Linked DNA regions of Homo sapiens. The protein of the gene in region 6 purifies or fractionates together with the protein of the main gene of each other region. This does not show direct contact. Each region holds a gene or a part of one and is shown on either strand. Other genes may lie near its edges. The genes, in order: TXNDC5, MRPL23, SPTAN1, NAPRT, CLIC4, NENF and POLDIP2.

The links.
Region 1: the proteins of NENF (region 6) and TXNDC5 fractionate together in Homo sapiens (co-fractionation; one large-scale study listed by BioGRID). This does not show direct contact.
Region 2: the proteins of NENF (region 6) and MRPL23 fractionate together in Homo sapiens (co-fractionation; one large-scale study listed by BioGRID). This does not show direct contact.
Region 3: the proteins of NENF (region 6) and SPTAN1 fractionate together in Homo sapiens (co-fractionation; one large-scale study listed by BioGRID). This does not show direct contact.
Region 4: the proteins of NENF (region 6) and NAPRT fractionate together in Homo sapiens (co-fractionation; one large-scale study listed by BioGRID). This does not show direct contact.
Region 5: the proteins of NENF (region 6) and CLIC4 fractionate together in Homo sapiens (co-fractionation; one large-scale study listed by BioGRID). This does not show direct contact.
Region 7: the proteins of NENF (region 6) and POLDIP2 fractionate together in Homo sapiens (co-fractionation; one large-scale study listed by BioGRID). This does not show direct contact.

What each region holds. Positions count from the first base shown.
Region 1 is NC_000006.12:7,883,903-7,886,788, reverse strand, and holds part of TXNDC5 (thioredoxin domain-containing protein 5 isoform 1 precursor), read left to right. Parts: intron 1-745; coding exon 746-828; intron 829-2,300; coding exon 2,301-2,430; intron 2,431-2,886. UniProt on the Homo sapiens protein: Protein disulfide isomerase of the endoplasmic reticulum lumen involved in the formation of disulfide bonds in proteins. Can reduce insulin disulfide bonds.
Region 2 is NC_000011.10:1,953,716-1,957,100, reverse strand, and holds the end of MRPL23 (large ribosomal subunit protein uL23m), read right to left. Parts: intron 1,491-3,385; coding exon of another isoform or gene 1,416-1,490; exon of another isoform or gene 1,320-1,415; intron 846-1,319; coding exon 681-845; 3' UTR 501-680; downstream 1-500.
Region 3 is NC_000009.12:128,629,087-128,632,586, forward strand, and holds part of SPTAN1 (spectrin alpha chain, non-erythrocytic 1), read left to right. Parts: intron 1-38; coding exon of another isoform or gene 39-101; intron 102-1,234; coding exon 1,235-1,289; intron 1,290-3,040; coding exon 3,041-3,237; intron 3,238-3,344; coding exon 3,345-3,398; intron 3,399-3,485; coding exon 3,486-3,500. UniProt on the Homo sapiens protein: Fodrin, which seems to be involved in secretion, interacts with calmodulin in a calcium-dependent manner and is thus candidate for the calcium-dependent movement of the cytoskeleton at the membrane.
Region 4 is NC_000008.11:143,575,531-143,579,486, reverse strand, and holds the start of NAPRT (nicotinate phosphoribosyltransferase), read left to right. Parts: upstream 1-1,156; 5' UTR 1,157-1,168; coding exon 1,169-1,394; intron 1,395-1,543; coding exon 1,544-1,671; intron 1,672-1,747; coding exon 1,748-1,830; intron 1,831-2,087; coding exon 2,088-2,218; intron 2,219-2,309; coding exon 2,310-2,425; intron 2,426-2,644; coding exon 2,645-2,841; intron 2,842-2,914; coding exon 2,915-3,055; intron 3,056-3,324; coding exon 3,325-3,409; intron 3,410-3,784; coding exon 3,785-3,865; intron 3,866-3,956. UniProt on the Homo sapiens protein: Catalyzes the first step in the biosynthesis of NAD from nicotinic acid, the ATP-dependent synthesis of beta-nicotinate D-ribonucleotide from nicotinate and 5-phospho-D-ribose 1-phosphate.
Region 5 is NC_000001.11:24,839,447-24,842,133, forward strand, and holds part of CLIC4 (chloride intracellular channel protein 4), read left to right. Parts: intron 1-413; coding exon 414-595; intron 596-1,326; coding exon 1,327-1,491; 3' UTR 1,492-2,687. UniProt on the Homo sapiens protein: In the soluble state, catalyzes glutaredoxin-like thiol disulfide exchange reactions with reduced glutathione as electron donor. Can insert into membranes and form voltage-dependent multi-ion conductive channels.
Region 6 is NC_000001.11:212,435,920-212,439,419, reverse strand, and holds part of NENF (neudesin precursor), read right to left. Parts: intron 1-3,500. UniProt on the Homo sapiens protein: Acts as a neurotrophic factor in postnatal mature neurons enhancing neuronal survival. Promotes cell proliferation and neurogenesis in undifferentiated neural progenitor cells at the embryonic stage and inhibits differentiation of astrocytes.
Region 7 is NC_000017.11:28,347,528-28,351,027, forward strand, and holds part of POLDIP2 (polymerase delta-interacting protein 2), read right to left. Parts: intron 3,266-3,500; coding exon 3,239-3,265; intron 3,037-3,238; coding exon 2,911-3,036; intron 1,972-2,910; exon of another isoform or gene 1,636-1,971; coding exon 1,556-1,635; exon of another isoform or gene 1,506-1,555; intron 803-1,505; exon of another isoform or gene 705-802; coding exon 590-704; 3' UTR 1-589. UniProt on the Homo sapiens protein: Involved in DNA damage tolerance by regulating translesion synthesis (TLS) of templates carrying DNA damage lesions such as 8oxoG and abasic sites.

The DNA.
Region 1 (2,886 bases), on a different chromosome or scaffold from region 6:
ATAAATCATCCCATTCCTGCTCTCAGGAGAGAATCGCAGATCCATTTTTGGAGAAACACATAGACGTCATTCTGTAAAGAACTGTCAAGGGAGAATGGCTTTAAAGCAGACTACCATGTAGCACCTTTCCCTTAAATTCTCCAGCCAGAGCTTCCATCAGCGTTTTTCACATTGACTTAGAACAGGCTGCTTTCCATTTTTATGTTCAATGTAAAACAGGTATCATTGCCTTTGCTATTGTAACTAGGTTCTTTCTGTTGCATAGAGAGGATGTCACAAAGGGTGCTAGGAGAATAGGGTGGCCAGTGAGAAAAGCGGCTGAGGATGAGACTTCAGTGGGTATCCTGGAGACTCCAGGCTTAGAGGTGCAGACTCAAGTGTCAGACACCCAGGGCTGCCTGGTCCACACCACAGCGCCCTGGAGAGTTTTCAACCTGCCTCATCCCCAAAAGACAGTCCCCCTCCCCACCTTCATCCCCTGTACAGTGTCCAGCCACCTCCTCACCACATCTCCCAGGCTTGGGACCCAGGGACTTGCATTGATCTCTCTGCCCTTCAGAGGCTGCCAGCCTCCCTTTGTGTGTAGCCTATGAAATGCAGATTGTGTAGGTATTTCTGTGTGACCTTGGAGCCTACGTAACTGCATTTTTAAAAAATTACTGATTCGTGTATCTGCAATCCCAAAGCATGGCCCTGCTCAACTTTAAGGGATGTACTTGAACTGTGGCTTTTTCCTCCCTTGAAGGGCACTGTGTTGGCACTCACTGAAAATAACTTCGATGACACCATTGCAGAAGGAATAACCTTCATCAAGTTTTATGCTCCATGGTAAGTGGCTGTTTAATTAGAAACTACTTTGTCCATGTGTACTAAGTCACATCATGTTTTTCAGCTCATCTGCCACCCCTCCAGACTCAATGTTGGGCACATGTTACATTTATATGTAGGTCATGTTGTAGGAAATAAGGAACCGTTATCATGCTCCTATATTCAAATATTTTAAACTTCAATGGCCTTAATTATATATGGAGAATGAGGCTACAGTTATATCAACTTTGATTATATATGGAGAATGAGGCTAAAGTTATATCAACTTTGGAGAAAACATAAAAATGGAGGCAAATTATGATGGCCATATTCAGTTTTGTGGTATCTGCACTTTTCCAAATAGATGGCTTTTCTTTTTGGCTAAACAATGAGTGTCATGATGTAGCTTTGCTCCTCGGTTCTTTTAAGTACTCGGATTTCTTTTGTAGAGAAATCCAGTAGAGTCTGTTAGAGCCATTCAGTATGCTACGCAGTTTCCTGAACCTGCATGCCACGTGGTCTTGGAGACCAGAGCAGAAATGGATTGCAGGTAGTGTGAGATCCAGACAACCTTGGTTCTAAGACTTACCGTGAATGACTGTATAGTAAACTTGGATGTCCTTTAATTCCTTTGAACCCCAGTTCCCTCAGCTGAAAAATGGGAGTAACTTTTTGTCTTCACAAATAAAACAATCCATTTGGAAAAGCAGAGTGTTAGGACAACAGTAGATTGTTTATCTAAACATGATAAAGGCGTCACTTTTCTTGTTTGTTACACTCCACATGTTCCTGAGAAACTAACCATAGGGGTAAAAAGTTAATAAGCACAGGACTTGAACGAACCATAGCAATGCCTTTCAAATCATTTGCAACATTTAAAAACCTAAAGCTCCACAGATCAAGTATCAAAAAGGAGGATCCCCTTTGGCTGAAGGGGAGCCATCCATACGGCAGGAGGGGGTCAGAAGAGACAAGGGAACAGAGTCGGGTAGAAGGGAGGGTTTGAACCAAACTTAATCATGGCCTTGATGCTCACCCCACATCGCTGAAGTACCAAGGAGGCCTTAAAATGGTTTTGAAATTGTGAGACCATAAGCAATCAAATCTAAAATGTCTTTGGCATTCAAGTGACCTTTTAGAAATTGTGTGGCATCTGCCCTGTTCCCTGTTCCTCTGCTCCTGTGCTTTCATAAACCAGTTAGCACAGTTCACCATGGCATGGAAATGGTCTCAGAATCTCAACTTGTTTTGAGACTGGCTTGCTTCTGTCACATTATCTGAAAGTCTACCTTGGATCAACTTTTGGGTTCTTCATTTGGGATAGGAGGAGGAAGAGTTAATGTGCACCCAGTGGGAGAATTTGGTATTTTACAAATTTCTAGGCAATTGTTGACTGTCCCATACAGAAGAAACAGAGCTTGTCTTGGCAGCAGAGTGTAGGTGAATGATCTCGACCCAGGATTTCAACGAAGCTGCCATTTTTCTCGTCTTAGGTGTGGTCATTGTAAGACTCTGGCTCCTACTTGGGAGGAACTCTCTAAAAAGGAATTCCCTGGTCTGGCGGGGGTCAAGATCGCCGAAGTAGACTGCACTGCTGAACGGAATATCTGCAGCAAGTATTCGGTGGGTACTTGGATGGATGCTTATGGGAGCTCTCAGTATGGGGGCAGATCCCAAGGGAACTGTGCCTCAACCACGATAACTCACTCTGCTCTCATCTTCTCAACAATGTGGTTTTTATGTCCCTTTGAGTTGTTTGTTTGGAGAAGCAAAAGAGATCCTCTCTCAAAGGGAAGGCATTCTTCTTCGCCCGCTTTGTAGTTAGTATCCATGTTTCAGTGCAGGTTTTCAGGCCTTGCTGTCTGAGTAACAAGGCCGTGAAGTAACAGACCCCACGCCATAGACTGTGGGGCTTCCCACACCGCGACTCTTGATGATTGACCAGTGGTCTGTAGCCTTTGCCATAAATACCCGAGTCGCTCATTTTTCACACATAAGCCAGCATTATAAAATGCAGTGGCTGAATCTAAGAATCATTTCAACATAACCTCCTTTCTGAAAGGGCCATGCCAGCAAGTC
Region 2 (3,385 bases), on a different chromosome or scaffold from region 6:
CGGGTTCTTGCTGCCAACAGTGCCAAACCGAAACCCACAGGCGGGCCGGAGTTCCCTCACCAGGCCCCCTGAGGGCTGCTGCCCTGGCAGCCCCTCCCCAGAACTTCTGTCCAGGCCAGGCCGTTCTCTCACCCGGCGCCGCCCCGTGCTCACGCTGACCCCTCCATTCCTCCCGACGCCTCTGGGCTCAGGCTCTGAATGTGGGCGCTCAGAACTATCTTCTGGGTCTTTTCACCTGCGTGTCTCATTCCCCACCTGGCATGCAGCTCCGAGCCTGTGTGTGGCCCTCTCTGGCCAACCCGCCTCCCCAGCATGGGGCCACGTCTCAAGTCTGCCCACCCTCAGTTCCCCGTCAACTCAGAGACCAGACCCCGGCCGCGCCCACTGCCCAGACCCTGGGAAAGCGGAGCCAGGCCACGTGGCGCTCAGAGCTGGGGGGTGGCTGCTGCGTGTCTGGCACCCAGAGACCCAAGAGAAGAAGGAAGCAGAGCTTCCGGCTCTTTCTCCTGCAGCAAGACTTTTATTTAGGTGTCGGGACTGCTCTGCCACAGCTGCCCACCTGGGGCGCGTCCCTGCTGGCCGCCCCGTCACGGCCCGAACCAGCTGGGGATGCCGCCCCGCCGCGGGTCGCTGCTCTGCCACAGCTGCCCACCTGGGGCGCGTCCCTGCTGGCCACCCCGTCACAGCCCGAACCAGCTGGGGACGCCGCCCCGCCGCGGGTCGCTGCTCTGCCTCTGCTGCCTCTCCTCCTCGAGCATGCTGTAGAGGTCGTCGGCAGCGCTGCCTTCAGGGCTCTCGTCTTTCTCGGGAAACAGATCTGGGAACGTGAAGGTCTGTCCATGGGCCTAAGGGGGAGAACAAAGGCTCCAGCCAGAGCTGCAAAGACTCCTCAGCAGAGGGGTCTGTGGGGGAGCCTCATGCTTTCTGGCAGCCCCTTTCTGCCGGCGCCGGATTCAACTGCTCAGAGGTACCTCCCTGGGCCTCCTGGGGCAGCGTCCCTGCCTGGAATGTAAGCACCCCCACGGCCACCGGCCCCCGGCTGTCACGCTGCAGCAGAGGCCACAGCTCCAGGACAGGGCCGCTTTCCCCACCATTGTCTCTTTAGGGCCTGGTGTCTGCCCCCGCCCTGGGTGCACCCATTTACTAGCACGGGGCCACCTGGTTGGTGGGGGGCAGAAACAAGGCATGGAAAAACATGACACAAATCACGTCTGGTACCATGCTGAACCTGTCCATCCAAAATGCCTCAGGCTCTACTCACATTAAAGCTCCCCCTCCTCCCAGCCCAGAGCCTGGCAATTAAAGTGAACATCACGTACGAAGAAACATGCACGTGCGGCAGTTGATAAATCAGGACCGGCTCTGCCAATTAACTGGTCTTACATCTTCTGCTGAGAGTTCAGAATATGTCCGTGTCAGCCAAGCCCCAGCCCAGGCCACAGCATGTGGCTCGGGTTCACGAGAAGGAGGGGATACTGCTCCTTGGGGACCTAAGCAAATACAAGAAGCCATCTTAACTTGCTAATGATTACTAAGTGCTCCAAAGCTAAGAGGCAGAAAGAGCAGACCAGAGGAGAGGGAAGAGAAGAGGGAGGAGGAGTGAGGATGGCACCCGAATCTGGAACCCTTTAGTGAGTAAAATCAGTCAGGTACACTTGGCTCTTGCAGACCCTTTGTGTGTAAATAAATCTGGATGTGGGCAGGCAGCCAAGTATGATCTGAAACAGGCCCAGATCCCACCCTGCGAGGGAGGTGTATGCACCCTGATCCCTGGCGCAGAGCGCAGGGGCTGGCGGGGAGAGTGGCACTGCGTGCGCCGTAGCCGGCCTGCAGGAGGATTGCCTTACACAGCTCTGAACTTTGCGTCTTTTAAAATACCAAGGGGCAGTCGTTTACACGTGAGGCTGACTGCCCAGAATGGGAGATTCACCTTGACTATATGGAGGTGATTCTGCTAGTTTTCCGAGGCAAGGGGAACCCAAAATGACAGTTTAAAGCACAAACATGGCCATTTGTCACAGCTTCGGGAAGAAATGGGGAAAGGTGCTGAGAGAAAATCCGTTTCTTACAGGAGACAAACACCGTTTGGGGATGCCAAGCATGGTTTCCCAGGGGCTTCCCCTTTCTAGAAGAGTTCACCTTGTACCTAAAAAAAAAAAGCCCTTGATCCTTCCAAAAAGGAGAGAGACAGCTGATCGGGGTAAAGAACAGGAATGGAGAAAAATGTCCCAATGACAAGTAAACAAGGCAGCCCTGCCTTCAGGAATCCCAGGGCGCCCTGGGGGCTGCCGCCTGCCTGGACCTGGAGGCCGGAGCCCCGAGCACGGAGCTCGGCCCAGCTGGCGGCAGCGGTTTGTTCTGGAGTTGCCTCTCATGTCGTGCGCCCTTCATTCCTGCGCGCCCTTCATTCCCGCGCTGCTCAGCATCCACACAAGCCTCGGGGCAGCGGGCAGTCAATGGTCTTTTTGTTGTGTGGGTCACTGAGGCGCTGCTTTCAGCTCCCAGGACTTTGGGCCAAGGAGATGCTTATCAGGTTGTCGGAGAAAGAAATGTGGGACTCCCGCCACGTGGGACAGGGCCTTTCCACAGCGGCCAACTCCAAATAACGTGGATAATTTTACCTTTCCAATGCTCCCTCCCTGGGCTTTGCAATTAGCAGTGATTCTAAGCCCTGGCGCAGGGCCCAGGGGGACACGCTGAGCAAGGTCTCAGCAGACACGAGACAGGAAAGGGCCTTGAGAGTCCCCTCTGCGGGCAGACAGGGACCAACGGCCACGGCCCATTTCTAGGCTGTGCAAAGATGTGCTGGAGTTCAGGAAGGGGGGTGAGGACCCGTTACAAATTTTCATTCTGGAACAGGAGGATCCATGCCCAACTGGGACCCTTCAGGCTCCCAGTTGCCCTGCCCTGTCTCTGGCTGCCTGGACTTCACAGAGGGAGAACAACACGCGGGCAGCAGCTGCAGACACCGGATCCCGGAGCTGCTGGGTTCAGTTTTCATGGGAGGTGGGGCCCAGAGGAAGAACGCAAGGGCTCGGATGACTTGAATGCCACTTGTAACCGTAGCTGCCTCTGAAGTGCCCGTGGCGGTGCCGGCACACGGGATGTCCACCCACATGCCATGACAAAGACAGATGGGCCCGACTGACACTGAGCACACAGAGGCCTTTATGAGGCCAACGGCTGCTCTCCCCACCTGGATTGGCTGATTTCATGCACAGCAAATATCAGGCCAAATTATTCCGGGGGCCCCTGTTTAGAACAACAAATGTGACTGTTTTTCAGAAAAGCTGCCATGCTAACTTGGCCTTTTTCACAAACTGCCTCCTTAGCCCCACAACAGGCCGGCTGGCCCAGGAGGCGGTTTCCACCATCGTGTGACTGC
Region 3 (3,500 bases), on a different chromosome or scaffold from region 6:
CCTTTGGTGTATTCATTTGGTTTCTTTTCTTTGAATAGCATAGCATATCGTCGGGTCATTCGTGTCTATCAGTATGAAGTTGGGGATGATCTGTCTGGAAGGTTTTTCTCCTTATTTCTCTTCTTACCTCACTGTGGCTTTACTGATGCACTCTTGACATCCCCAGGCGGCTCCACCCTGACTAACCTGCCGCCCTCGGCTGCTTGGGAAGGAGGGGTCTGTCCTCCCACTGCACCGGCACCCAGCCTCCTGCCCCCAGGTCCTGGGGGGCATTTTCCCCGGGGGGACATGGCGTGACTGTGAGTCTGACCTGCTGGGGTAGGAGGAAGCCTGGTGCCTTGCCTTGCTAGAGCACTTTGAACCTGGGGAGATTGCAGAGCTAACCCTGGCTCGCCGGGTTTTAAAAGGGTAGGTTGGGGTGAATGTGGGTACAGGGGAGCCTGGGCTAAAACCCCACCAAGGCCACACGCACCGTGTGATTCGTCCCTGCACGTAACCCTAACTCGTTTGTTGTCTTTGTTTACTGGTAGCCTCTGTGACCTGGCACTGTGTTCTCTTGGGAAGGAGGCTCCCCAGAGCCCATCTGCTCTCAGAACTTGGTCCTAGAGAGGAGGCTCCCTCCCTGGCTGTGTCTAGAGGATGGAACCGGGATCTGGGGTTTAGTCACAGCCATCTCTCTCCTTTTGGCACAGTTGGTCGTGATCTCCCAGCACTCCACTTGTGTCCTTTGTCTGCAGGGTCGTGCTCTCATTCCCCCTAGAATGGGGCTCCCTCCCTCAGGAACCTTGCCGGGACACTCCAGGGTTTCTGTGGGGAGGCTGTCAGGTTCTCAGCCTCCCCTCTGCCCTGAGGTCTCCTGTCTGTCAGGTGTCAGGGTGTGCCATCCCCCACATGGCTGCAGAGAGGATGCTCAGACAGGCCTGCAGCCACCCTGCACCCATGGGGGAATTTAAACTCCATTCCTGAGTCATCCTGGCCTTGGGAGCAAGACGAGTGGGCTCAGCCCTGGCCCACACCAAGGCAGCAGCTTCCCATCTCTAAAACGGGAGAAATGCTCCCTGCCATCCCTCGATCCCTGGGGCCCATTAGGTAAAGATGGCCAGTTGCAGTTAGGTTTGGTTTCCTTAAAAGGAATGTGAGGTTGCCAGGCATTGCTCTCTCTGAGAGAAGGTTCATTCTGAGCTCTCGGCCAGCTGGGAGCAGGCCCCTTTCCTCACTGTCCTTCCACGTTTAGGTCCTGTATGGTGGAAGAGTCGGGGACCCTCGAATCCCAGCTTGAAGCTACCAAAGTAAGTGCCCGTGGGGCTCTGGCCCAGCAGAGACCCTTCACCCAGCCACCCCCCAGGGTACCCCTTCCCTTCCTGGCTTAAAGTCAGGAACCAGATGTGCTATTATTGTACCCTTTTCCCTTGGCCTAAAGCAGTCTAGGGCTCTTCACTATCTCTCTCTCTTTTCTTTCTTTCTTCATGGAATCTCTCTCTCGCCCAGGCTGGAGTGCAGTGGTGCGATATTGGCTCACTGCAACCTCCACCTCCCAGGTCAAGCAATTCTCCTGCCTCAGCCTCCCAAATAGCTGTACTACAGATGTGTGCCACCACATTTGGCTAATTTTTGTTTATTTTTAATTATCTTTTGAGATGGAGTTTCACTCTTGTTGCCCAGGCTGGAGTGCAATGGACGTGGTCTTGGCTCACTGCAACCTCCACCTCCTGGGTTCAAGTGATCCTCCTGCCTCAACCTCCCAAGTAGCTGGGATTACAGGCGCCCACCACCACACCTGGGTAATTTTTGTATTTTTAGTAGAGACAGGGTTTCACCATGTTGGCCAGGCAGGCTGGTCTCGAACTCCTGACCTCGGCTGATCTGCCCGCCTCGGCCTCCCAAAGTGCTGGGATTACAAGCGTGAGCCACCACATCTGGCCTAGTTTTTATATTTTTAGTAGAGACAGTGTTTTGCCTTGTTGGCCAGGCCGGTCTGGAACTCCTGATCTCCAGTGATCTGTCCACCTCAGCCTCCCAAAGTGCTGGGATTACAAGCATGAGCCACCACTCCCGGCCGAGGGCTCTTCACTTTAAAGAAAGTCTTTGGGGCTGGGTGTGGTGACTTACACCTGTAATCCCAGCACTTTGGGAAGCCGAGGCGGGTGGATTGCTTGAAGTCAGGAGTTCGAGACCAGCCTGGCCAACATGGGGAAACCCCATCTCTACTAAAAATACAAAATATTAGCTGGGTGTGGTGGCAGGCACCTGTAATCCCAGCTACTCAGGAGGCTGAGGCAGGAGAATCACTTGATTCTGGGATGCGGAGGTTGCAGTGACCCGAGATCAGGCCATTGCACTCCAGCCTGGGTGACAAGAGCAAAACTCCCTCTGAAAAAAATTACTTGGGCATGGTGGCCTACACCTGCTCAAAGTCCAGCATGGGCAATATATAGCAAGACCTTGTCTTAAAAATAAGGCTGGGTGCAGTGGCTCATGCCTATAATCCCAGAACTTTGGGAGGCCAAGACAGGCAGATCACTTGAGCCTAGGAATTCAAGACCAGCCTGGTCAATGCAGTGAAACATCGCCTCTACTAAAAATACAAAAATTAGGCAGGTGTGGTGATGGGCACCTGTTAGTTCCAGCTACTCAGGAGATTGAGGCAGGAGAATCACTTGAACCCGGGAGGTTGCAGTGAGCGTGATTGCGCCACTGCACTCTAGCCTAGGCGACAGTGAGACTCCATCTCAAAAAAATTTATAAAAATCTTTGGCCACTGCTTCCTGGAGTCCTCGCCGTACTTGTCCTTGGCGTGCACTGCCCTCTGGCAGGTCTACCAGCTGCTTTGGAACCCTCACATTGAAAGTCTCTCCCTCTATTGAGGTGGTTGGGATTTCTTCAGCTTCACCCCATCCCACTATTCCTATTCTAGAATGTTCTTGTTTTACGAGGTCTCAGGCCAGGCCTGGAGCAGGAACCAGAGGGCAGTAAGTGGCTCCTGGGCTGGTGACTGAGCTGAGGGCCCCCGTCTGAGCATCTGTGCTCCCCACCCCTGCAGCGCAAGCACCAGGAAATCCGAGCCATGAGAAGTCAGCTCAAAAAGATCGAGGACCTGGGGGCCGCCATGGAGGAGGCCCTCATCCTGGACAACAAGTACACGGAGCACAGCACCGTGGGCCTCGCCCAGCAGTGGGACCAGCTGGACCAGCTGGGCATGCGCATGCAGCACAACCTGGAGCAGCAGATCCAGGCCAGGTACCCGGGAGGGCTGTGGGCCAGGCTCAGCCCAGAGCAGGGGGAGGAAAAGACACAGTCACCTGCTGTGTGGAGGGTCTGTTCCCTAATTTCTGTTTTTCTTCCAGGAACACAACAGGTGTGACTGAGGAGGCCCTCAAAGAATTCAGCATGATGTTTAAGTGAGTTCAGCCTTACTCGCCCTGGCTGGGTGGGGGGTGTTCGGCAGCAGGGCTGCCTGCTGAGCCGCCCTCGGCTTTGTGCTGCAGACACTTTGACAAGGA
Region 4 (3,956 bases), on a different chromosome or scaffold from region 6:
AAAGCCAGAAACAGAAACTGTTAGGTCACTATCTGGAGAGGCCACCACCCCACCACTCTGCCTCCTGTTGGCATTGTCCCCATGGGAGCAAGCGTGCAAGCCTGGAATTGTCCAGGAAAGAAGTCCCAGTAGCACCCGGCCCTGCTGCCATGCCCTTTGTCATGTGCTGTCCCGGCCCTCCCCTCACCTCATTCATTCCTGGAATCCCTGCCCCTTGCTCCAGGGACTGTGCCCCTCCCATGATGTTCTGGGGTGGCCAGAACGTGGCTGCCTGGGCTCTGTGGAGCTGTGCCTCAGCATCCTGACAGCCGTATGTGGTCAGCATGGGTGGCCACACTCCCTCCCCTGGACCACCCGTGTTTGCATTGGGGTGAAAGAGGATGGGGTGTAATTACTTGATTACTTCTGGTCAGACTCTGTCCTCGGGGCCCCAAGCCACAGGGGAATGGATTCTCCCTGGGTAGTGGCCCCTGACTTTGCCCTCAAACCTTTAGAAAGTTTCCTGTGGGGCTTGGACTGCAGGACCCCATAAAAGCCACCACTGAGGGACACTGGGCCTTCATAGCCACAAAAGGTCTTTTGGTGCCAGCCGACAGTGGGCATGCGCCCCCCTGCCCCACGCCGCCCTTTCCTGGGTGCCAAGCTCTTTCCAAGCGACATTTGCGTCCATCTGGGCTGCCTCGTCCTAGCCTGGCTGCTCAAGCTCTAACTAAGGCAGCCTCTGGCCTCCCTCCCCAGGCCCAGGGCAGGAGCTGGCTGCTGGCCAGCGGTTGTCTTCTGGGTCGGTGGGGGTGGAGTCTGGCTGGTCTGTCCTCCACCCTTTCCGCCGCCTGGCAAGTCCTGAGCTGCACCTCATTGCCCGGCCAAAGGGCAGAGACACGAGCGACTGGGGGCACCTCTGGTGACCAAGACCGGGCTGCGCTCCAAAGAGGCCGTTGGGCCTGGAGTGGGGTTGGGGGGTCCGAGAGGAGTTGGGTGACATCCCCCACCCCATCCCGGGTCCAGCTGTTTCAGCCCCTCTCGGCGCGCCGATACTATTAGCCCCACCCGTCCTCCATCGAGTCCCGTGCCGCTCCCAAACGGCACGATAAGCCCCACAGGGAGTGCGCCATAGGCCGGGGCGCGTCACGGGGTCGGGGCGGGGCGGAGTCCGGACGTCGGGAGCAGGATGGCGGCGGAGCAGGACCCCGAGGCGCGCGCGGCGGCGCGGCCGCTGCTCACTGACCTCTACCAGGCCACCATGGCGTTGGGCTATTGGCGCGCGGGCCGGGCGCGGGACGCCGCCGAGTTCGAGCTCTTCTTCCGCCGCTGCCCGTTCGGCGGCGCCTTCGCCTTGGCCGCCGGCTTGCGCGACTGTGTGCGCTTCCTGCGCGCCTTCCGCCTGCGGGACGCCGGTAGTCCCCCGTCCGCGCGACGAGCCCCCCACGCCCGGCAGAAACCCCCACCTATGGCCGGTGGAAGTCCTTGTCCCCCCGTGGAACCCCCCATGTCCCACGACCGGTCTGTCCCCGCGCTGGTCTCAGCGCAGTTACCTCGTTTCCAGACGTGCAGTTCCTGGCCTCGGTGCTGCCCCCAGACACGGATCCTGCGTTCTTCGAGCACCTTCGGGCCCTCGACTGCTCCGAGGTGACGGTGCGAGCCCTGCCCGAGGGCTCCCTCGCCTTCCCCGGAGTGAGTAGGGGTAAGCGGGCGGCGCGGCGGCCACGGGGTGCTGGGCCGAGCGCGGAGCTGACTTCTCTCCCCGCAGGTGCCGCTCCTGCAGGTGTCCGGGCCGCTCCTGGTGGTGCAGCTGCTGGAGACACCGCTGCTCTGCCTGGTCAGCTACGCCAGGTGGGCTGCGGGCCACTGGCAGGGAGCGTGGGCATGGGATGGGCCCCCAGCGCCGGGGCTCCGTGCTGGACTGTGGCGGCGGGGCTGGCTGCCCAGGGGTCCCAGGACTGGCCTCCCGCCCCCACTCTTCAGGGTGTAAGGAGGGGCTGGGTGAGGGTGGAGCTCCCAGGTTGGAAGTTCCAGGCCCCAGGTAACCGCCGTCTTGGGTGGCCTAGTGATCCTCACCCTGGGACCCCCTGACTCTTGGCTCCCCACAGCCTGGTGGCCACCAACGCAGCGCGGCTTCGCTTGATCGCAGGGCCAGAGAAGCGGCTGCTAGAGATGGGCCTGAGGCGGGCTCAGGGCCCCGATGGGGGCCTGACAGCCTCCACCTACAGCTACCTGGGCGGTGAGTGTCTGGTGCGGGGCAAGGCAAGGGCCGGGAAGGAGGAGCCCCATCTTGGCCCGAGGTCCCCCAATCCCACCGCCTTCCTCCCCAGGCTTCGACAGCAGCAGCAACGTGCTAGCGGGCCAGCTGCGAGGTGTGCCGGTGGCCGGGACCCTGGCCCACTCCTTCGTCACTTCCTTTTCAGGCAGCGAGGTGCCCCCTGACCCGGTCAGTCCCTCCTCTAAACCCTGCTGTCTCCAGGCGACAGGCCCCAAGCCAGCCCTTGCCCTGGCGAGAGGTGTGCCACCCAGGCAGGTCACCCCAGTGCTGTCCCAGGAAGCTGGCACGGGCTGCATTACCTTTGCTCTCAAACTAGGGTGTCCCTGGCTGCTCCCAGGCCTCATCCTGCATTCCTGGCCCCCATTCTTCACCGACTCTGTTCCACAGATGTTGGCGCCAGCAGCTGGTGAGGGCCCTGGGGTGGACCTGGCGGCCAAAGCCCAGGTGTGGCTGGAGCAGGTGTGTGCCCACCTGGGGCTGGGGGTGCAGGAGCCGCATCCAGGCGAGCGGGCAGCCTTTGTGGCCTATGCCTTGGCTTTTCCCCGGGCCTTCCAGGGCCTCCTGGACACCTACAGCGTGTGGAGGTGAGCCCGGGCACTTTAGGGGTGGGCTCAGCAGAACCTCAGCAGCCTCTGACTCCCTTATCTATTTCTGCAGGAGTGGTCTCCCCAACTTCCTAGCAGTCGCCCTGGCCCTGGGAGAGCTGGGCTACCGGGCAGTGGGCGTGAGGCTGGACAGTGGTGACCTGCTACAGCAGGCTCAGGAGATCCGCAAGGTCTTCCGAGCTGCTGCAGCCCAGTGAGTTTCCCGGGGAGGAGGTGTGCCTGGTGGGAGATCCCCGGGGTTTGGGAATGGGCAGGGAAGGACAGTGAGGTACTCTGCTGAAGTTTCAGCGGTGATACTGCAGGCCGTGGCAGGGAAGTAAGTGGTGGGGCTCCCTAGGAGCTCCCAAGCAGAAGGTGAGCACAGGTGTCCTTGACTGAGGCGGGGCGGGGAGCAGGGGGACACCAGGGTGAATCAGGAAGACCCGAGGGGTGGCCCCCACCCTTTCTCCACCCACGCGGCAGGTTCCAGGTGCCCTGGCTGGAGTCAGTCCTCATCGTAGTCAGCAACAACATTGACGAGGAGGCGCTGGCCCGACTGGCCCAGGAGGTGGGGTGGATGAGTGGGTAGGCGGAGGGTGGCTGGGGGGCTCTGGGGGCCCCTGCAGGTTCTGGCTGGGCTCATTGCCACCTCCTTCCCCGCCCAGGGCACTGCCACCCCCTTCCCCACCCAGGGCACTGCCACCTCCTTCCCCCACCCAGGGCACTGCCACCCCCTTCCCCACCCAGGGCACTGCCACCCCCTTCACCCAGGGCAGTGCCACCTCCTTCCCCACCTAGGGCACTGGCACCTCCTTCCCCACCCAGGGCACTGCCACCCCCTTCCCCACCCAGGGCAGTGCCACCTCCTTCCCCACCCAGGGCAGTGCCACCCCCTTCCCCACCCAGGGCAGCTGGGCTCACGGCCACCCCCTTCCCCACCCAGGGCAGTGAGGTGAATGTCATTGGCATTGGCACCAGTGTGGTCACCTGCCCCCAACAGCCTTCCCTGGGTGGCGTCTATAAGGTAGGGACAGTGTCGGGGGCCCAGGTGGGGGCAGGTCTGAGGGATGGTGCTGGGTGGGGGATAAGGACCAGCCAGCTCAACGCCCTCTTCC
Region 5 (2,687 bases), about 190 Mb from region 6:
CCGCCACCACGCCCGGCTAATTTTTTGTATTTTTAGTAGAGACGAGGTTTCACCGTGTTAGCCAGGATGGTCTCGATCTCCTGACCTCGTGATCTGCCTGCCTCGGCCTCCCAAAGTGCTGGGATTACAGGCGTGAGCCACCGCGCCCGGCCATTTGTTAGCAAGTTTTTACAAATACCACTGCCTGACATTATTATGCTTATTTATACTTTTACCTGAACAAACTTGTTTCATCCCCTGCCCCACCTAATTGAGCTCTAGGAGAGCAGGAGCCTTGTCTGTTTTGTTCTACAGTACCTTGTTTCAGAGTAAACATTTTTAAACAGTTATTGACTCAAAGAGTCTGCTTCTCCTTGGGGACTTGAGTGGTTTTCCTTCTTACAGTATTCTCATCTCTTTTTTTCCCCCCCAAGCACTGGAGAGGGGTCTCCTGAAAACCCTGCAGAAACTGGATGAATATCTGAATTCTCCTCTCCCTGATGAAATTGATGAAAATAGTATGGAGGACATAAAGTTTTCTACACGTAAATTTCTGGATGGCAATGAAATGACATTAGCTGATTGCAACCTGCTGCCCAAACTGCATATTGTCAAGGTAGGTCTGTAGGGGTTGATGTCGCATTGCCATTACCTTGTATTGTATTTACTAAAGTGGCATTTCCTTTGTGCTCAAAACATTTCTGATTTTATATGACTAGTTGTTTAACTCAATGCTGTTTAGGCAATAGTTGAAGCACCCTAGAGTTAGTTAAATGGAAAATTATGTCTTAAAATTGAGGAATATAAGAAAGATGAATATTTTTTTTTCTGTGACTGCATACAAATTCAAAGATATAATGCGTGACTTTGAATTGGAGTTTGCCACACTGACTTATGTTATCAAATTCTGTTCTGTGATCACACCTTGCTTTCTCTATTGAAGGCAAAAAGTATTGAGCATTTATTATATGAGACACTGGGCTGGGCACATTGTTAAATAGAATAATAATAAGCGCTAGTTGTAAATAAAGACCTAAGATAACAAAAACAGATCTAAAATAGCATATGTGTGTTGTGAAGTATTTTCCAGTGATTATACTTGGCTGTCTTTCTGGATGTCCAAGGCAGTTATTTGCAGTCACTGTCACACTTCTAAATCCCTGGTGTAGCTTGCAGTCTTGGTCATTATTTAAAACTCTGGTTAGAATGATGGTGATGGACTTTTTTTCATATAGAAGCAGTTCTCAAAGATTTAGAGCATTAATTATTTGCTCCAAAATCAGAGATATGTCTAGTTTACAAGACGTGGAAATAAGTCTGTTAACTTTTGATCTCTTTGTATTTCAGGTGGTGGCCAAAAAATATCGCAACTTTGATATTCCAAAAGAAATGACTGGCATCTGGAGATACCTAACTAATGCATACAGTAGGGACGAGTTCACCAATACCTGTCCCAGTGATAAGGAGGTTGAAATAGCATATAGTGATGTAGCCAAAAGACTCACCAAGTAAAATCGCGTTTGTAAAAGAGATGTCTTCATGTCTTCCCCTAAGAATACGCTTTTCCTAACAGGCTACTCCTTCCTGTAGAGCAGAAATTGTATTTTGCACGAACATGCAGTTATTGAAGATTAGGATCAAGGATAGACAAGGTATAGTAGTTATCTTAAAATATACACTCCTAAGCAGTATTATTTTAAAATCCTTTACCCTGGCTACCTCCCCTACCCGGGTTCCCCTCTCTTTAATTTGGAGACACTCCACCACAAACTTTTCACTTTAGAGGTAGCTTGCCATCTCTCAGGAGCCCTCACCATTGTGTCCATTCACTGTGTATAGATGGCAGAACTTTTGAGGTGCAATGTTTAATTGTTAAAAATAGTAGCCACGACTTTATCAGGCAGCCCCAAACTGGTGCATAATGCATGGTACAAGAAATATTTATGTATTTTTTGGAATTTTGTAATATTTAGTAAGAGTATATGAAAGGATTGCTACTGTATCAGAAATATTGTTTCAATTTAGTCTATCCTGGATATGTACTAACGAATATTACCACCAGAGAAGAGAGCTTTCTACAAAAGTCACTACAGATTTTGCTATATTGCTTTGTAGATAGATTTTTACTTTTGCCTAAAAGCATTTATCCTTCATACCAATTGTAACATCTGACACCATGTAGAAGCTAAAAGTTTAGAGGGAGTGAGGGTTTTCTCAAGACCTTCCTCAAGCATTTTATCTTTAGAAGAGAAACTGATGGGCACCTGATACTCTGTCTAAATACGTTTGTTATATGTGTTTTGCCCTGTGCCATTCATTTGGAACTTTATTGCATTCTTTATTTTAAAAAGCTTGTTTTTACGTAATCATAGAGCTTGCTATTTGTACATCTGTTGAGCAACACTACATAACTGATTTTTAGTTGACTTAGCTATAGCAGTACAATGATTAGTAATGTAAAAATTAACACAGAAATTAACCTAAGGAATGAAGGGTGGGTTTGTCAAAATATCAAGTAAATTTTTGTTTCTAAAGTACATTTAATGTAGATGACCTAAAGAATGCGTTATCCATCCTATATAAAAGAAAGATAAAACACAGGTCACCAATTTTCTCATTTCACCCCATTTACCTTGTATAGAGGATTGTTCATTCCTTTGGGACTAAGTTATAGTTATGGTGAGTGTGTATTTACTGTAGTTTTGCCT
Region 6 (3,500 bases):
CAGACGTGTGCCACCATGCTTGGCTAATTTTTTTTTTTTTTGTATTTTTAGTAGAGATGGGGTTTCTCCATGTTGGTCAGGCTGGTCTTGAACTCCCAACGTGAGGTGATCTACCCGCCTCGGCCTCCCAAAGTGCTGGGATTACAGGCGTGAGCCACTGCACCCAGCAATCTCCTTTTTTTAACAGTAAAATTTTTATCTCCTCCTTAAACTACTTACTTGAAGGTGTAAGTGCGAAGAGGAAGTCATATTATAGGGGAAGAAAAGAATGTTTAGCATTTTTGAGGCCTCAGAGTGACATAGATACCTCATATGCCATGCAGAGGAATGGTCTTATCAGTAAACAGAGCGTGCTGTGGTGGTGAGTTCTGACCCAGTGTAGATGAACATCCATGGATAGCACAACCCCCAGGCACAGACTCTCAGGCCTGGGAAATGACAACTGAGAAGGTGGAGGGTGGGTGGAAGGCTTGGGAGTATAAATGCAGACACAGGAATAGAAGTGACACAGAAACAGCCAGGCATGGTGGCTCCCAGCACTTTGGGAGGCTGAGGTGGGCAGATGACTTGAGGTCAGGAGTTTGAGACCAGCCTGGCCAACATGGTGAAAACCTGTCTCTACTAAAAATACAAAAATTAGCCGGGTGTGGTGGCAGGTGCCTGTAATCCCAGCTACTGGGGAGGCTGAGGCAGAATTGCTTGAACCCGGGAGGCGGAGGTTGCAGTGAGCCAAGATCACACTACTGCACTCCAGCTTTGATGACAGAGCAAGACTCTGTCTCCAAAAAAAAAAAAAAAAAAATACAGACACACACACGCAAAACAAAACAAAATCAGCCACTGCACTCCAGCCTGGGTGACAGAGTGAGACTTTGTCTCAAAAACTAAACTAAAATAAAATAATCTTGTAAGGCAGTTATTACTATACCCATTTTGTAGGTGAAGAAACTGAGGCTTAGAGTTTACATAACCTGTCAATGGTTTCTCTGCTGGTAAATAAAAAGTCAGGATTCAGACTCATACCTGTCTGATTCTAAGCCTTTGCCCTTCCTAGGGCAATTCTTCCTTATTGAAAACTTGAATACCAATCTCTGGCCTGCAATCTGTAGACAGTGAAACCCTGCTATCATAACAGGTGTGTGACAAGGCAAAAGCTACCGGTGAACATGTGCAAGCAATATCTCTACCTATCAGGGCAATTTTGACAGGAGTTGAAGAAAACAAGCGCCAAAGAAAGGCACTCTGGAACACACTACCTTTTTTTCCTCTATTTTCAATTTTGTTCAACACACTCACTTTATAACCTGTTATCTACATAAGAGGTCCTCAAAATCACCTCTTCTGTACAACCCTTACTAGAATTACTGGGAGAATGGAGTTCTAAAGAAGCACCAAGGAGATGCTGTCCAGATTTTTTTTCTTTTTTAAAATAGAGACAAGGTCTCACTACGTTGCCCAGGCTGGTCTCAAACTCCTGGGCTTAAGCGATCTTTCCAGCTCGGCCTCCCAAACTGCTGGGACTACAGGTGTGAGCCACCACACCCCGCCCAGATTTTCAGCAAGCATTCGAAGAGGACTAATGTATACCAAAGATTTTTCTATTCCCATATGTGAATGATTTAGGGAGCCTTGGATCACTCTGAGGCCCTACAATGCCTAAAAGGAAAGAACTGGCTCTTGGTGCAGTAGATCCAGAACACAGTGTGGCTCTGTGAAAGACACTGACAGCCAGGACACCCATGCTTCACGGATTTCCCATCTGAAGCTGCCACTGGAGAAACTACGCAAATCCCTGTGTGGGTGTCTGAGCTCTCTCACCTTGAACCACACAGTGGGATGTGTGACTGATAGAGGCGGGTCTGCCTTGGCTCTCATCCAAGAAAGAAGGTTTTTTTATATCTAGTAGAAGCAAGTCACTCATTGCTAGATGTTTCAGAAAGCCTTGTTACACAGGTCCACAATCCCACAGCAGAAACTCTTGGGGGTCAGACATGTTTTCAATATGAAAATATGTCAGATTTTAGAAAGGTGTTATGGGGAACATACCATATATTATGCAATACCTCTAGGGAGGTCCAAGGCAACACCCATAATCAAGTATGTTAGTATTTCTCCAGTGAAACATGAACATTCACAGTAAATGGGATAAAGACTAACGTAGACTCATAGCAGCTCCAACAAGGTTCTGTCATCAAGTGATTTCAGATCAAGCTGGGTTTTTCTGTCAAATGACTTGTGAAAAACAAAAATGTCTAGGTTTCAGAGTTTATTAGATTTCTGTAGTGCATGAAAGGACCGTGGACCTGTTATAATGCCTCTTGCTTGTATCTTTAATAAGGTAATAAAAAATAATAGTAGCTAACATTTATTAAGACTTACGGTGCTAAGCCCTATTCCAGGCCTACGCTAAGCCTGTGCACACCACCATCTCATTTAATGCAGGCATTCACAAAACACCTGCTTAGAGTAGGAACTCTTTTTTTTTTTTTTTTTTTGGTAGAGGTGAGGTCTTGTTATGTTGCCTAGGCTGGTCTCAAACTCCTGGCTTCAAGCAATCCTCCTGCCTCGACCTCCCAAAGTGAGTGCTGGGATTACAGGTGTGAGCCACCACACTCAGCCAAGTAGGAACTCTTATTATAACCATTGTGATGATTTATTTTATGTGTCAATTTGCACAGGTTACTGTACCCAGTTATTCAATCAAATACTCACCTAGATATTGCTGTGCATCTACAATCAATTGGCTTTATATAAGGAAATAATCCCAGATAATCTGGGTGGGCCTAATCTCATAATCGAAAGACCTTAACAAGGCTGGGTACAGTGGCTTACGCCTGTAATCCCAGTACTTTGGAAGGCTGAGACGGGTGGATCACGAGGTCAGGAGTCCAAGACTAGCCTGGCCAAGATGGTGAAACCCTGTCTCTACTAAAAATACCAAAAGTAGCTGGGCATGGTGGTGGGCGCCTGTAATCCCAGCTACTCGGGAGGCTGAGGTAGAGAACTGCTTGAACATGGGAGGCGGAGGTTGCAGTGAGCTGAGATCACACCACTGCACTCCAGCCTGGGAAACAGAGCAAGACTCCGTCTCAAAAAAAAAAAAAAAAAAAAAGACCCATGGGCTACAGCATCTGCTCCTGCCTGAGGGCTTCCAGCCTGCCCCTTCTGATAGCCTGCTCTATGTATTTCCAATTTGCCCAGCCAGCCCCCGCTATCGTGTAAACCAATCCTTATGATAAACCATTTATCTATCTATATATAGTTGACCCTTGAACAACACAGGTTTGAACTGCATGGGTCCACTTATATGTGGGTTTTCTTCCACCTCTGCCACCCCTGAGATAGCAACACCAACCACTCCTCTTCCTTCTCAGGATGCAGACCTTTATAATGATCCACTTTCACTTAATAGTAAATATATTTTCTCTTCTTTATGATTTTCTTAGTAACACTTTCTTTTGTCTAGCTTACATTACTGTAAGAATTCAGTATATAATACA
Region 7 (3,500 bases), on a different chromosome or scaffold from region 6:
CACTCCGACCCTGACACTGGCCTCCCTCTCTGCATTTGGCAGAAGGTAAAGTGAACAAGAGTCCAGTCCAGCACCCCCGCCAACTAGCTGAGAGGCACAGTGACCCTAGGAGATGTCCAGCCAGCCTCCAGGCTGAGAGGGAAACAGGCACATGCCCTACCAGGGGGGCAGCTCCCTGGAAGGGCAGCAAAGAAAGCAGTCAAGGGCGCACACTGGGTCAGAAGGGGAGCCTGAGACTCTGGGAGCAGAAATGGCAAGGGTGGCCAAGCGTGCACTGGTTTACTGATCAAACCTCACGTGACAGGCCAGGAAACTCCTCCAGGCCTGTGGCAGCTGAACACAGTTCCTTGGTGGAGAGGTTTACTGGAACATGGTGTAGGCAGGGCTTATGAGGAGGCCAGCCTTGGAGGTGTCCCACATGGGTCTTCTGAAGAAAAGTTATACCACCCCTCCCCACAAAAAGAACCCCACAATCAAATTAAGAGACCCACTGTGGCCCATGATGGGGAGAGAAGAGTTCTGCAGCAATTGTGGGATGAGAGTTGTTCTTCCCGGTGACCAAGCCTGGGCACTTGGGGCCTCAGCTGGCCTACCAGTGAAGGCCTGAGGGTGGTGTCTTCTCATCTTTATTGCTTTCCAGGGAGAAGGGAGGAATCCGAACATCAAAGTGGGAGCCATCAGGTCTTTCAAAGCGGAACGTGCCCCTACAGTCAGAAAGAAGCTGGTTTAGAAGGAGCCAGGGCTGAGGCCTCCTAAGGATCTGGATGGCCCCATGCCCTCAGCTGCCAGCCACAGAGGACATGTGAGCCTGAGCTCTCTTCTATCTCTAGCTCATGACAGGATGACTGGTCCAGAGACCCAAGAGCCCCTCATGGTTATCCATGAAAAGAAAAACACAGCTGCAGTGGCTCACGCCTGAAATCCCAGCATTTTGGGAGGCTGATGCCAGCAGATCACCTGAGGTCACCTGAGGTGGGGAGTTTGAGACCAGCCTGACCAACATGGAGAAACCCCGTCTCCACTAAAAATACAAAATTAGCCGGGCGTGGTGGCGCATGCCTGTAATCCCAGCTACTCGGGAGGCTGAGGCAAGAGAATGGCTTGAACCTGGGAGGCGGAGGTTGCAGTGAGCCAAGATTGTGCCATTGCACTCCAGCCTGGGCAATAAGTGAAACTCCATCTCACAAAAGAAAAAAGGAAAACACAGCTGTCCAGATTCTGGCCTTTAGATACATACTGCATAAGCTAGCCAACTGCATTTTCAGGTAAAGGAGTGAAACACCAAGGGAAAAAACCCAACTATACAAGCAATTCTGCAGCATCAAATCACCAGACCTCTTTAGCCTAAGTCCTCAGTCCACAAATCACAGGGTACTGGGAAACAGGCGGTAATAGAAAATCAGACAAGTCCCACACAACAATATAGCAGATAAGGCTCCCTCTAAGAATGTAACTTGGCCCAGAGTTAATGGCAAGCTCTAAGCTCTCACTTTTCTGACCTACAGCTTCTGTTTGTGGAGCTGGGTGGCCCCTACTGCTGTGCACACTCACTCACCACATGTGCCCACTGGAAGCCTGCAGCGAGACGTGGCTGCTATACTGGAACGCAGGCTGCTCCTTGGATAACACTGGTTCCTGTAAAGGTTTAGGCAAAATGGGTCAGGCCAAGCCCCAGGGACATGTTTCCTGCACCCCAGGGTTACATGCTGACTGCCAGTTCATCAAGACTGGATGTCCCCTACCCAGCCACCACCACAGCAGGCACTCCCATAGCATGATACACTTCCTGCCAGTACCTCCTCCCATAGATGGCCATTTGGCTGGGCCTTTTATGCTGGCTCTGGGAAAGATAATCTCAGACTGAATGTCCGAAGGCACTGGGCAAAGGACCTCCTCTGCAGCCCGGGGAACACAGTGAGACCCCATCTCCACAAAAAAAAAAAAAAAAAAAAAAAAAATTTAAACTAACCAGGCATAGTGGTGTGTGCCTGTAGTCCTGCTACTCAGAAAGCTGAGGCGGAGGATTGCTTGAGCCCAGAAAAGTAAACTATGGTCGCACCACTGCACTCCAGCCTGGGTGACACAGCGAGACCCTGTCTCTAAAAACAAAGGACCTCCTGTGGAGATATCCCCTCCAGTGTCCATTCACACATGCTGGCGGGGACCACGGCAGGTACTCTGCAAACCTCTGCTGCTTTAATTCTCCTAATGATCATAAGATAACTGGTGTGATCCACATTTTAGGAGTAAGGAACTAAGATTTTGGTTAAATAACTTGCCGAAAGTTATGCTAATATATAACTCAGCTGGAATTTGAAGTGACTACCTAAATCCAAAGCCTTGTTCTTATTCACTTGCCCAACTGCCTCCCCAGTCCTCGCTGACTTTGATAAATGCTTGTTGAATGTGGCCCCTGACACCAGTACTGCTTGTGACTTTATTTCTCAGGAGACAGGGTTGGGTAGGCAGGGATTATAAAATCAGATCTCTTCAAGGACCAGCAGAGGATGTAAACATGTAAAGGGGCAAAGAGGCAAGACCACAGGGATTGGTGGGGGTGTGTGCCCCACCTAACGACATTCAAATTTTAGTTTTTAAAAGACACTATACCAGTTTTAAAAACTACACAAGTTTTGACTTCAGACTCACTTGGGTTTAAATTGAGGCCCTGCCACTACTAGCTATGGGACCATGGGCTGGTTATTTAACTTCTCAGTCTCACTCTTTTCATCTATGAAATGGGTTTCAAGAAACATATCTCATGTAGTTGTTTTAAGATTTCTAACCCAAAACAACACAATGTATTCACAAAGTGAGCCTCTGTCTATAACAACAAAGGAGAAGGAAGCCATGCGCTAAGCCCCCAGGCTTGCCACACAGGACCAGAATTACTAGACCAAGGATGCTCACCCTGCCCACTACCCCTCGGCCTCGCACTGTCTCCAAGGTGCCAGAGAGACTGAATATCCTCCAGTGCCGCTCCCGGAGCTGTACCACATCACTGTCAAGGTTCTCCAAACGGATACAGTAGCGCCACTGAGGTGGGTGTGGGAGAGAGAGTTTAAAAAAAATAAAATTTGGGTAACCCTCCTCAGAATTCTGTGCAAAGCAAAAGTCAACAAAGCTGACACATGCACTGCACAGGTTCCGCTCTCGTCAGAAGGTGGGCTCCCCCACCTCCACCCTGACCCCCAGGCACACCCCACAAGCTCCCCTTCTCCCAGACAGTGACACTCACCCAGTACACGTGGGAATTCTGGGCTTCCTAGGGAGAAAACAAAAAGAATTTAAGTCCCACAGGGCAAGACCAAGTGTGTTCCAATCAACATCTCTCCAGTGCAGTTGATGTATTCCAGGAAGGTTGCAGACAGACCAAGCTGAGAGTATCTGTGGGATAAGGGTGATAGCTGAACCATGGCCTACACACCCACAGGGAGGCAACATCCCTGTATCCACTCCTGGCCTCCCCACTCCTCATCCCTTCAAGATCACCAACAGAG